3 linked regions of the Homo sapiens genome follow. The protein of the gene in region 1 interacts with the protein of each later gene in a pairwise test. Each region holds a gene or a part of one and is shown in the gene's direction. Other genes may lie near its edges. The genes, in order: PSMF1, TRIM73 and RBFOX1.

The links.
Region 2: the proteins of PSMF1 (region 1) and TRIM73 interact in a two-hybrid assay, tested with the Homo sapiens proteins (one large-scale study listed by BioGRID).
Region 3: the proteins of PSMF1 (region 1) and RBFOX1 interact in a two-hybrid assay, tested with the Homo sapiens proteins (one large-scale study listed by BioGRID and IntAct).

Annotation. Positions count from the first base shown.
Region 1 is NC_000020.11:1,128,474-1,132,123, forward strand, and holds part of PSMF1 (proteasome inhibitor PI31 subunit), read left to right. Parts: intron 1-3,650. UniProt on the Homo sapiens protein: Plays an important role in control of proteasome function. Inhibits the hydrolysis of protein and peptide substrates by the 20S proteasome. Also inhibits the activation of the proteasome by the proteasome regulatory proteins PA700 and PA28.
Region 2 is NC_000007.14:75,394,222-75,398,498, forward strand, and holds the start of TRIM73 (tripartite motif-containing protein 73), read left to right. Parts: upstream 1-1,407; 5' UTR 1,408-1,589; intron 1,590-4,277.
Region 3 is NC_000016.10:7,579,391-7,583,040, forward strand, and holds part of RBFOX1 (RNA binding protein fox-1 homolog 1), read left to right. Parts: intron 1-386; coding exon 387-530; intron 531-3,650. UniProt on the Homo sapiens protein: RNA-binding protein that regulates alternative splicing events by binding to 5'-UGCAUGU-3' elements. Regulates alternative splicing of tissue-specific exons and of differentially spliced exons during erythropoiesis.

The DNA of each region.
Region 1 (3,650 bases):
CAGTGCCTACCAAGAACAAACCTATTAAGTAAAGTTCCAAATGACTTATTTCCAGTTCTTTTTGTCTTTTAACTATGTTCCACAAAAGATGTAGGCAGAGTAGTGTGTTCCAAAGGTACTTAGATTAGTGCTTGTTTTTAAAATCAGTATAATGAAATTATCTGTTTTATATATAGTTAAGCTGATTTATGTCTGCTTTATTCCATTATAGGGATTTTCCCCCCATCTTCATTGACCTCCTCAGGGTTTTATTTTTTATTTTATTTTATTTTTTTGAGGTGGAGTCTAGTTCTGTCACCCAGGCTGGAGTACAGTGTGACTGTTCAAGCAATTCTTCTGCCTCAGCTTCCCGAGTAACTGGGATTACAGGTGTGCACCACCACACCCAGCTAATTTTTGCGTTTTTTTGTTTTGTTTTTTGAGACGGAGTCTTGCTCTGTCACCCAGGCTGGAGTGCAGTGGCGCGATCTCGGCTCACTGCAAGCTCTACCTCCCGGGTTCACGCCATTCTCCTGCCTCAGCCTCCCGAGTAGCTGGGACTACAGGTGCCCACCACCACGCCTGGCAATTTTTTTTTTTTGTATTTTAGTAGAGATGGGGTTTCACCATGTTAGCCAGGATGGTCTCGATCTCCTGACCTCGTGATCCACCTGCCTTGGCCTCCCAAAGTGCTGGGATTACAGGCGTGAGCCACTGCACCCAGCCAATTTTTGCGTTTTTAATAGAGACAGGGTTTTGCTGTTGGCCAGGCTGGTGTCGAACTCCTGACCTCAAGTGATGGGATTACAGGTGTGAGCTACCGCACCTAGCCACCCTCAGAGTTTTAGAGTGAGCTTGGCATCACTATAAATGCACAGTTATCAAACCTTAACCGAACCTCAGAACTGCCCAGAAACCCTGTTGCATTTAATAGTATCTAATCAGCAATACCCTCTTTGAACCTATTCCAGTCCTCACAGACTTTCAAACCACTGGCCTCCACATTCTGGCCACTCCTCATTTCTCCTCCCCTCTTCCATGCAGCTTCTGTGTGAGGAGGTCTTTTACATATTCCCCTCCTGCATGCCACCCTCCAGTGTATTTCCCACGCAGCAGTTGGACCAGTCTTTCAGACATAGATCAGATCATAGTTAACAACTCTGGCTTAAAACCCTTCAGTGATGCTGCTTCACACCCATTACGATGGGTAGTATCAGAATAACCAGAAAATAAACAAGCGTTGTCAAGGATGTGGAGAAATTGGAACTCTTGTGCACTCTTGGGAATGTAAAATGGTGCAGCCACTATGGAAAACAATATGACAGTTCTTCAAAAAATTACCGTATAATCCTGCATGTCCACTTCCGGGCATATACCCAAAAGAATTGAAAGTAGGTCTTGAAAAGATATTTGTACACCCATGTTCGTAGAAGCATTATTCACAGTAGCCAAAAGGTGAAAGCAGCTTGGCTGTCCATTGATAAGATGAATGGATGAACAAAATTTGGTATGTAAATACAGTAGAATATTATTCGGCTTTAAAAAGGAAGGAAATTCTGGCCCGTGCTACAACATGGATGAACCTTGAAGACATTATACTAAATTAAATAAGCCATTCACAAAAGGACAAATTCTGTGTGATTCTATTAAAAGTACCTAGATTAGTCAAATTTGTAGAGACAGACAGTGGATGGTGGTTGCCAGATACTGGGGCAAGAGGGGAATAGGAAGGGGAGTTAGTGATTAATGGGTACAGAGTTTGTTTTGCAAAATGAAAAGAGATCTGGAGATGGATGGTAGGTGATTGCACAACAGTGTTAATGTACTTAACAGTACTGAACACTTAAAAATGGTTAAGATGGTAAATTTTATGCATATTTTACCACAGTTAAAAGTCTTTAGGGAATACTCATTGCTGTTAGGATAAAGAGCACAATCCTTGATGAGGCCTTAAAGCATTCACCCCTTCAATCTCACCTTGTACTGCCTTCCCCGCATCCCTGTGCTTCAGCCACAGTGTCATTCTTCTGCCCTCTTCAGACCTCTTCCCTCTGTCTAAAGTGCTCTCCCTGACCTCACGTAGCCAACTCCTGTTTATCTTTTGGTTACCGATTTAAACGTCAGTTCCTTAGAGAAGCTTCCTCTGGCCCCCAGGCTTACAGCTTCAAAACATTTTAGTAAAATGTTTTTTTTGGAGTCAGGTTTCCCTCTGTTGCCCAGGCAGGCTGGAGTACAGTGGCACAATCAGCTCACTTATAAACAGGCCAAGCAGCCTCAACCTACTGGGCTCAAGTGACCCTCCCACCTGAGCCTCCCAAATAATTGGGTCTACAGGCATGTGCCACCATGCCCAGCCAGTTTTTTATTTTTTGTAGAGATGAGGTCTTTGCTGTGTTGCCCTGGATCAAAACATCATTTTTTAAGCATTTAATCCATCAGATATTTTACATTTACCTTCTTAGGGTTGGTCTTCCCTCCTTGCCTGTGATCTCCTTGAGGGCAGGGTTTGGGTGTCTTCTGCATGCAATAGACAAAGGGAGGGAAGGGGAAGTGAGCCAGGCCTGGCCGGCAGAATGCTGCGCCTCTGAGGAAAGGGGGAAGTGAGCCAGGCCTGGCCGGCAGAATGCCGCGCCTCTGGGTGTTGCACACTCCCTGACACCCTGGCCCCTCTTAGTGGGTAAGGGAGGGACATTTGGAGTGTGGTCTCTTGACTTCTTCACTCTGGACTTCCACTGGGAGAGAAATTGACAAAACCTGTGGAAGAACCTAGGAATTATACTGGCCATTCATGCTCATTAGAGCATTCCGTCTGTTCAGCAATACTGAAAGAGAATTGTGATCCTGTCTCTATTTGTTTTTTAAGTACATTTGTTTGAGGGGTTTGTGTGTGAGGGAGGGGATATGTGTTGTGTTTTGTTTTGTTTTTTGATTACTGTGAAATGAGGGACACAATAGTACTACCTCAGGGTTTTTCTGAGAATGGAATGAGATGTCAGCACATAGAGTGCTTAGCGCTTAGTCCAGCTCTTAGTAAAATACACAAAGGGGAAAAAAATGTGATCACCAGGAGTCATCTCCGTGGAAATGGGCGGTGAAAGCTGAGGTATGGCTCTGCCTCCTGATCAGAGGCCCTGTCTCCCTCCTATGCCTTTCAGCCATAGCTTCCTCCATGTAGCCCTCTTTATTAGGTCATTGTGGCATGTCTTGCCTCTTCCAGCAATTTGTGCTCCTCAGTGAGCAAACTGTGATTTGCTAAGAAATATAAACCTATTGTGTTCCATTCTGCTGTACCCTTTCTGTGTCGGATGAGATGGTAGGCTGTCTTTTGCCACAACCAAAATGGCAGTTGTTCTTTCAAGGCTTAGAAATTGTGTGAGAACTTCTCCTTCAGGACCTGGTGGTTTTTTAATCAGGCCTGAATTTTACACATGCCTAGGGAGATCAGAGGCCTCCCTCTGATCTGATTAAAAGGAAAGAAGACTTGAATTTACCCTCCCACCCAGCTTGGGCAGGCAAGCAGCTCATTTTTTACCCATGGATGTCCAATGGCCCCAACATCATTTGTTATTCCTTCATTGAATTACTTTTGAAACTTTGTCAAAAATCAGTTGTCTGTACATCTGTGGATCTATCTCTGGATCCCTTGTTCTTTTCCATTGATCTCTATGTCT
Region 2 (4,277 bases), on another chromosome or scaffold:
GCTCCTAAACAATCCCTTCTTCTCCAGCTCCTACTCTGAATTTACCCTCTCCAAGTTTCATTAGCCGAGGAGTTTTCCTAAAGTAATTAGAATCGAAGGGTCTGTCCAAGTGTTCCAGGTATCCATAGTATTTCACTAGAATAGAGGAAAGAATGTAAGGAAAATGGACCCAAAACACCCACGCCACCATAATATCGAGTCTCTCATGATCACACAGAAACAATGCGATCAGATGAGCTTAAGCTGCCCGACACCACGAGGTACAGGAATAAATCTCTCTGCATTTTAGGAGCCTACCCTTCGGCTCAGAGGTTCAAGAGCTTCATGGAAGCATCACGCAAAGGGGACATAGGGTTCCTTAGCTTTCCTCTTAAAAAAACTAATTCATGGCAGAAGCAGCGGCTCACGCTTGTAATCCCAGCTACTGGGGAGGCTGAGGTGGGAGGATCACTTGGGACCAGGAGTCTGAGACCAGCCTGGGCAACATAGAAAGTGCCCCATCTCTACAAAAATATTAAAAATTAGCCGGGCATGGTGGATTGCGCCTGTAAATCTCTTATTTGGGAGGCTGAGGCTGGAGAATCACTTGAGCCCAGGAAGCAGAGGCTGCAGTGAGCTATGTTCGCACCACTGCACTCCAGCCTGGGGAACTGAGCGAGACCCCGTTTCAAAAACAAAAATCCACTTCAAACAAAGCATTTCCAACCCCATTAAATGCTTTTTGAAAATGAGGCCTCTCTCTTCCCAACAGAGTGCGATGACATGGATCCTGCGGACAAACCGCCCCAGGGCGTACCTAGCACCGAAGCATCAGGCGCCACTAGGTCTCCAGCTCCTTCTCGGATGACGTCCTTCAGCACGCCCCGGTCCCCCGAGATGTCCAGCATCCTCTGACTTAACCGCTCGTACAGGGACTGATGGAGAATGAAAGCCAGGCCTCAGAGCCGCAGACCCACCCGGCCACCCCTCAGCGTCTACGCCCCCGAAACGTCTGGGCCCTCACCTGGCCGGGGGCGTCGTCCCCTTCCAGGACTCCCTGGTTTAACGCGCTTCCCCCCATGTCCTAGCTGCCCTCCCTGTGGCGTGAGCCTTCGGCCTGGTGCGCCCCGCTGCCCTTCCTGGCTGTGACTCTGGTGGGGTTCCGAAGGCCCCTTTATGCCCGGCAGACCCCTACCGACGGCGGCATTACATTCTGGGGCCACGAGGAGGCACTCATCGTTTCGTTCCAACCGCCGCCAACGGCCCTGGCCCTCGCGAGCTCTGGAACTACAGAGGTCGCACGGTGAGTTGCCAGGTGTGGCCCGTAATCGGAGCGCACAAAACATGATGGGACACGTAACGGGACCACACAGGGCACATTGGGCACTTGCAGGGGCGCGAGGTGGCGGCACGTAATGGGAGCGCGCTGAGCATGATGGGGCATGTGCGGGAGCGCCAGGCGGGGCATGTAACCAGAGCGTGCGGGGCATGATGGGGCACGGACATGGGGGGTTAGGTGGGGCACGTAATTGGAGCTCGCGGGGCAGGATGGGGCATCTAACTGGAGCGACAGAGAGCACGATGGGGCACTTACAGGGGCCGGAGGCTGGGTACGTAATGAGAGCGAGCGGGAAATGATGGGGCACCTAACGAGCACGCAGAGCATGATGGGGCACGGGTGCGAGGTGGGGCGCACAGTGGGAGCGCGTGGGGCGTGATGGGACACATGGCGAGGCCGTCAGGGCACAGGGGAAGCACTTTTGGAACACGTGAGTGACAGGGCTGCCGCCCTTGAAGGAGCCCTCGGAGTGGCTGCGTGGTGGGGCACGTGGGGCAGGTTCAGGAAAAAGGATGCAGCATGTGATTGCAGGGCAACCTGGTGAGGACACGAGAGCCACCTGCCACCAGCAGGGTTCAGGGCTCCCAGCTGTGGGTTACTTCCACCTTCTTTCACTTTCCCTCTTCCATTGTATTCTAGAGAATTTAGGCCCAGACAAGACACTGATTGATTGATTGATTGATTGATTGACAGAGGCTCGCTCTGAGCCCAGGCTGGAGTTCAGTGATGGATCTCAGCTCACTGCAGCCGCCACCTCCTGGGCTCAAGAGATCCTCCTGCCTCGGCCTCCCAAGTAGCTGGGATTACAGACGTGCACCACCAGGCCCAGCTAATTTATTTTTTAGTTTTTAATTTGCTGGTAAGATGGTTTGTAGCTTTGTTGCCTAGGCTGGTCTTGAACTCCTGGCTTCAAGCGATCCTCCAGTCTTGACCTCCCAAAGTGCTGGGATTATAGGCGTAGGCTACAGCCAACTTTCAATACTGCCCCATTGGGGGTTACGTTTCCAACACATGAAATTAGGAGGATACATTCAAACCACAGCAGTATATTATGACCATAATATTCATTAACTGTGTAACAGGCTGGGCGCGGTGGCTCACACCTGTAATCCCAGCACTTTGGGAGACCAGAGTGGGTAGATCACTCGAGGTCAGGAGTTTGAGACCAGCCTGGCCCACATGATGAAACCGCCTCTCTACTAAAAATACAAAAAATTAGCCGGTGTGGTGGCAGGCGCCTGTAACCTCAGCTACTTGGGAGGCTGAGGCAGGAGAATCACTTGAATCCGGGAGGTGGAGGTGGCAGTGAGCCTGATTGCACCACTGCACTCCAGCCTGGGCAACAAGAGCAAAACTCTGTCTCAATAAACAAACAAACAAACAAAACCTGTATAACAGAGTGTCATTGAATTTCTAAACGTTGAAAGACTTCACATTAAAAAAAAACTCACAATTTAATATTATTGAGTGAAAGAAACCAGACACAAAAGGGTACATTCTATATGATGCTGTTTATGTGACATTCAAAAACAGGCCACATGACAACATGGTAATAAGGACAGTGGCTGTCCTTGTTAGGAGTTATGACTGGAAGGAGGCAGGAGGGAGCTTTCTGGAAACACTGTACATCTTGCTCTTGAGAGTGCACGTATATACATCAAGTGTTTATCAAGCTGTGTGGTTAAGATTTGCACACTTGTATATGTTATACCTCGATTTAAAAAATCTAAATAAGTAAATAAAGATACCTTCAAATCTTTAAAAAAAAAAAAAAAAAGAGGCCAGGTTCGGCGGCTCACACCTGTAATCCCAGCACTTTGGGAGGCTGAGGTAGGAGGATTGCTTGAGGCCAGGAGTTCAAAACCAGCCCAGGCAACAAAGTGAGACCCCTGTCTCTACTAAAGTAAATAAAACAATAAAATAAAAAAAAAAATTCGAGAGATCGAACCATCATCTGCCAGTTTGTATTAGAAAAAAAGAGAGAGAGAAGGAAGACTGCGTGCAATAAGGCTCATGCCTGTAATCCCAGCACTTTGGGAGGCCAAGGTGGGAGGATTGCTTGAGCCCAGAAGTTGAAGACCAGCCTGGGCAACAAAGCAAGACCCGGTATCTACAAAAAAAATTTTAAAAATTAGCTTGGCATGGTGGCATGTGCCTGTAGTCCCAGCTACTCAGGCAGCTAAGGTAGGAGGATGGCTTGAGCCTAGGAGTTGGAGGCTGCAGTGAGCTGTGACCACGCCACTGCACTCCAGCCTGGGCAACAGAGCAAGACACTGTCTTCCCCTGCCCCCCAGCCCCCCACCCCCCCCAAAAAAGGATATAAGAGCAAGAGATTGAGATTCAGAAAGAACTGTTTCCCAGCACCTATCTGCTCCTGTTGGGGTCATGAGGTGTGGACGGTGTACCCAGTCCCTCTGTTTCTGCCCCTCCTCCACAGTGGCCAAGGCCAGCACTTGAATGTTATCAGAGCAGGCCCAACAAAGGCTGCCTCCCCAGTCCTGTGATGTAACCCAGTTTCCACCTGATTCTGGTGACCTTGGGGACACAGGGGTGTTGCTGGGGAAGGGGAGGAGAGAAGGGGCAGAGACCAGGCAGTGGTGCAGGCGTCCAGCTGCACTTCCCACTTCTGACTCTGTGCCTGCTGTTCCCTGCTGGGAAGAAGAAAAGCCAGTGATGCTGGCTTGAGGCCATAGTGGGAGGCCCAGTGGATCCTGAGAAGCTAGGTATTCCAATGTCGGGCTCTCGCTGGGGGCTTCTGGTGCTTCTTCTGTCTCACTGACAAGCTTTCATAGGGGAGCAGGTGGGAGATCAGGGTAGAGGCCTTGTAGGTTCCAGGCTCTCTAGAATTACCTGGGAGTGTCACCTATAAGTGTAGAGTTCTGGGTCTCACTGGAGACCCCCTGAAGCAGATCCTTTGAAGGTGGGCCTCTAGAATCTCTATTACACCTATGCTTTCAAC
Region 3 (3,650 bases), on another chromosome or scaffold:
ATGAGGTTCTCGCTCCCCACCTCCCAACCCCAGCAGCTCCCAGTCCCCTTCCTTTGCTTTTTCTAGCCTATAGTGCTTTTCTCTGTCTGCCAACACTCTATCTATGGATTTATTGTCTGTGTTGCCCTCATGAGAATGATGCTCCCTGAGGGCAGGGATTTTTGTCTGCTTTTCCCACTGCCTAATCCCAGATTCATAATGAGCACCCAGTGGACGCTCAGAAAACACTTGCTGAATGAATGCATGCATGCATGCGTCAGCATTTTCTTCCCTTCTCAGATTGCTTAGTTCTGATCTTTTCCTGCCACTCATGGCAAGCAAAAGAGCATCGGAAGAGAGCACTGTGGTCCACTGAGAACCTCTTCGGTTTCTTCTTGTTCTTTTAGCAGACAGATGACGCAGCACCGACGGATGGCCAGCCCCAGACACAACCTTCTGAAAACACGGAAAACAAGTCTCAGCCCAAGCGGCTGCATGTCTCCAATATCCCCTTCAGGTTCCGGGATCCGGACCTCAGACAAATGTTTGGTGTAAGTATCACCTTTCTTCCCAGCAGTGCCCGCTCTGGGGGTTCCAGAGACCTCCCTGTCTCATGTAAGTTTGGGGTATTTACAATACTAAGGTTAGATGTTTGTATGGGGAGAAACAATTTAGAGCCTAGTCTGCAGGTATATTGTGGCTAGAATCTCTTTATGGTTTTAGCATGTATTTCTGTACATATGCTCACCATGTATCTACTTTACCAAGTGGCTTTCTTCTAAGAAGTAACTTGTAGGCCAAATGGAACACAAATTCCTAGATGACCCACTGTTGAAGGAAGCCTATTGATGGTCCTAAATCCAATGGCCCAGGACATCATACTGCAGCAAAAATACACATCGAGTCCTCTTGGTTTTGCTTTCTTTTACAGTTGTCAAATGATCCAGAGGGTGACTCTTAGTGTATCCCTGCATTGCCTAGTCTTTCCCAGGCACTGTGCATTTAGATTTCAGATGCATCAGCAGAGAACAACTACTTCTGCATAAAGCTGATTTTAGCAAACAAAACAAAACCACCACCACCGACACCAAATGAGCTACCAGTTTCTAAGTCCATGTTGATTCCTGAAGTCTACGTTCTTCTGAAATCAGTGAAAAGGATTCAGAGGTACTTACTGTGGTGCTATATGCCATGAAGTGTAGCCTTGCCCAGGCACCATGGTGAAACACAGAGCAGGCCACAAGTCACCACTGACCCAGGAGAAAATAATAGCATTGCTTTTTTTATAGGTCATCTTGCCCCTGATTATTTTTTTCTCGAAGATATCTTCACTATCCACTTTGGGAAGACATGAGTTTGCCATTTCTTTGACCAGTGTTCCACCAAAGGACAAAGCTGTGACAGGGCTTGGATATCATTCATGTTTGCAGATGTAGCCAATTTGCCCATGACATCCCAGCAATGATAGCAGGTGCCTCTGGATTCAATGAAAAGAACTACATCCTTAACATTTGACTTAGAGCAATGGTGGGCTTCTCAGAGACTCTTCCTCTAAGAGTTAATAAATGGATGCAAATATCACAAAAGGAACAAGAAGATGCCCAACTTGAATGCCTCATTCCTAGCCAAGTTGGTGGTGTCTCCATATAAAATGGGAGGCTCTTGTTCACTACTCAAAGGCACTGTGTGTTGGGGATTAGCTTGCACCTTTTACTTCTTATACACACGTGATGCTTATCAAGTATGCATCTGACACAAAAGCAGAGCGAGCATCCTAATATTGAAGATACCCAGCTTTGAATGCTGACATTTCAGAGGAAAAGGTCAGCTCTTGCACTTTTATCTCTCTCATTTGGTAATAACCTTGAGTTGAGCCTTCCAACTCCTGCAGAACAGAGATACCCTCGGGCACTTTCAGGTCAAAGATGACTTTGAAAAGTGCAGAGCATTCAAAGTGAGAGTCGAGGTTAAGTGTGTGTGAGGCAGTAAGACCAGGTGTGAATGATGGGCGGTAAGAGGAGTTATATTCTCTTTGCCGTGTCAGGTTAGGAAGACATCTTGCTATGCAGTCTATTTTTTTCTCATCAAGTGTCACTGTGATGTTGGCTTTCAATGTGATCCCCTTAATGACCGTCCTGACACTCTTTCATGGTGTCACTCAGTTATCGTGAAAGTTACTGCAGGCTACAATGCTAAGTCATAGAGGTATTCAAAATATTCACAGGAATCAGAGAAGGGATCCTGAGTCTCTCTAGTCTTACAGAGGTAGGGTAGACGGCAAGGAGCAAGATCTTGCCAAAAAATTGTACTACCGGTCATCAGACCTTGATCCAAATCTACTAGTTTCAGGGCTCTTGTTTTTAAAAAGACAAGTTCTCACTCTGCTACCCAGGCTAGAGTGCAGTGGTGTGATCACGGCTCACTGCAAATTCTTGGGCTCAAGGGATCCTCCCACCTCAGCCTCCCAAGTAGCTGGGACTACAGGCACAAGCCACCATGCTTGGCTAATTTTTAAGTATTTTTTTTTAATAGAGATGGGGTCTCAATTTGTTGTCCAGGCTGCTCACAAATTCCTGGCCTCAAGCAACCCTCCCGCCTTGGCCTCCCAATGTGCTGGGATTACAGCATAAGATGTGAGCTATTGCACCCATCCAGCACCCCCCCCCCCCCTTTTTTTTGTGACAAAGTCTTAGTCTGTCACCCAGACTGCAGTGAAGTGGCATGATCTCGGCTCATTGCAACCTTTCTCCTGGGTTCAAGCGATTCTTGTGCCTCAGCTTCCTGACTAGCTGGGACTACATGCATTCACCACTTCACTTTAAAGTCAAGATTTTCAAGCAACTGACAAGATGTCAATTTGGCAAGATGATAGATACACTTAATACCTGTCAATTAAGAGAACACACCATGCATTTAGTGCACAAACTCAACCTTGTTCATCACAAATAGCATCTGTGTCCCTTTTTTTAAAAGTATGCAAGATTTATTTGTTTCTGTAAATTTTGTCTATAAAAGTGCCAGGAACATACAGATTCATAGACCCCCTTGCAATGACTTTCAAGCCTCCTTAGTTTACAACCACTATTCTAAAGAAATGCAGTTTTATGCACTAAAAATCTGTTCTTTCCTGCCAAACACCGGTGGTCATGGAGCCGTTCTTGTTATAGGATACATTTAGTGGCAGGAATCACATTGTGAAGCATCTGTAAACATTCTCATTGGCTCCCTGCACTGGAGCTTAGGGAATTTAGGAGGGTTTCCTCTTTTGGGTCATAGTTACTGCAAGAAACTACAGTTTAACTCCAATTCGGTACTTCTCACGTTATTTGGACATGAGACATCTTCTTTCCTTTTGGTGCTCTATCCTGTCTTTGTCTTCCCACTTTGACAGGGGTTTACAGTGAGGACAATTACAGAGAAAAACAGTCACAAAGATCTTTGTGCTTTTCCCCCCCTTTGTCTCTTGTTAAATATAGGCATGGGATTTCAAAGTCAAAAGCAAAACAAGACAAAAAAGCAACCTCCTTCTTCAAACTGCCTAAAACTTGGCAGTGATCATTACAACGTCTGTAACCACTAATAATTCGACCATACCATCTGCAACCGTTACATGCCTAATGGTTACTGCAGATGACTCATTTTATTTCTAATTTGTATCTTCAGCACATCAT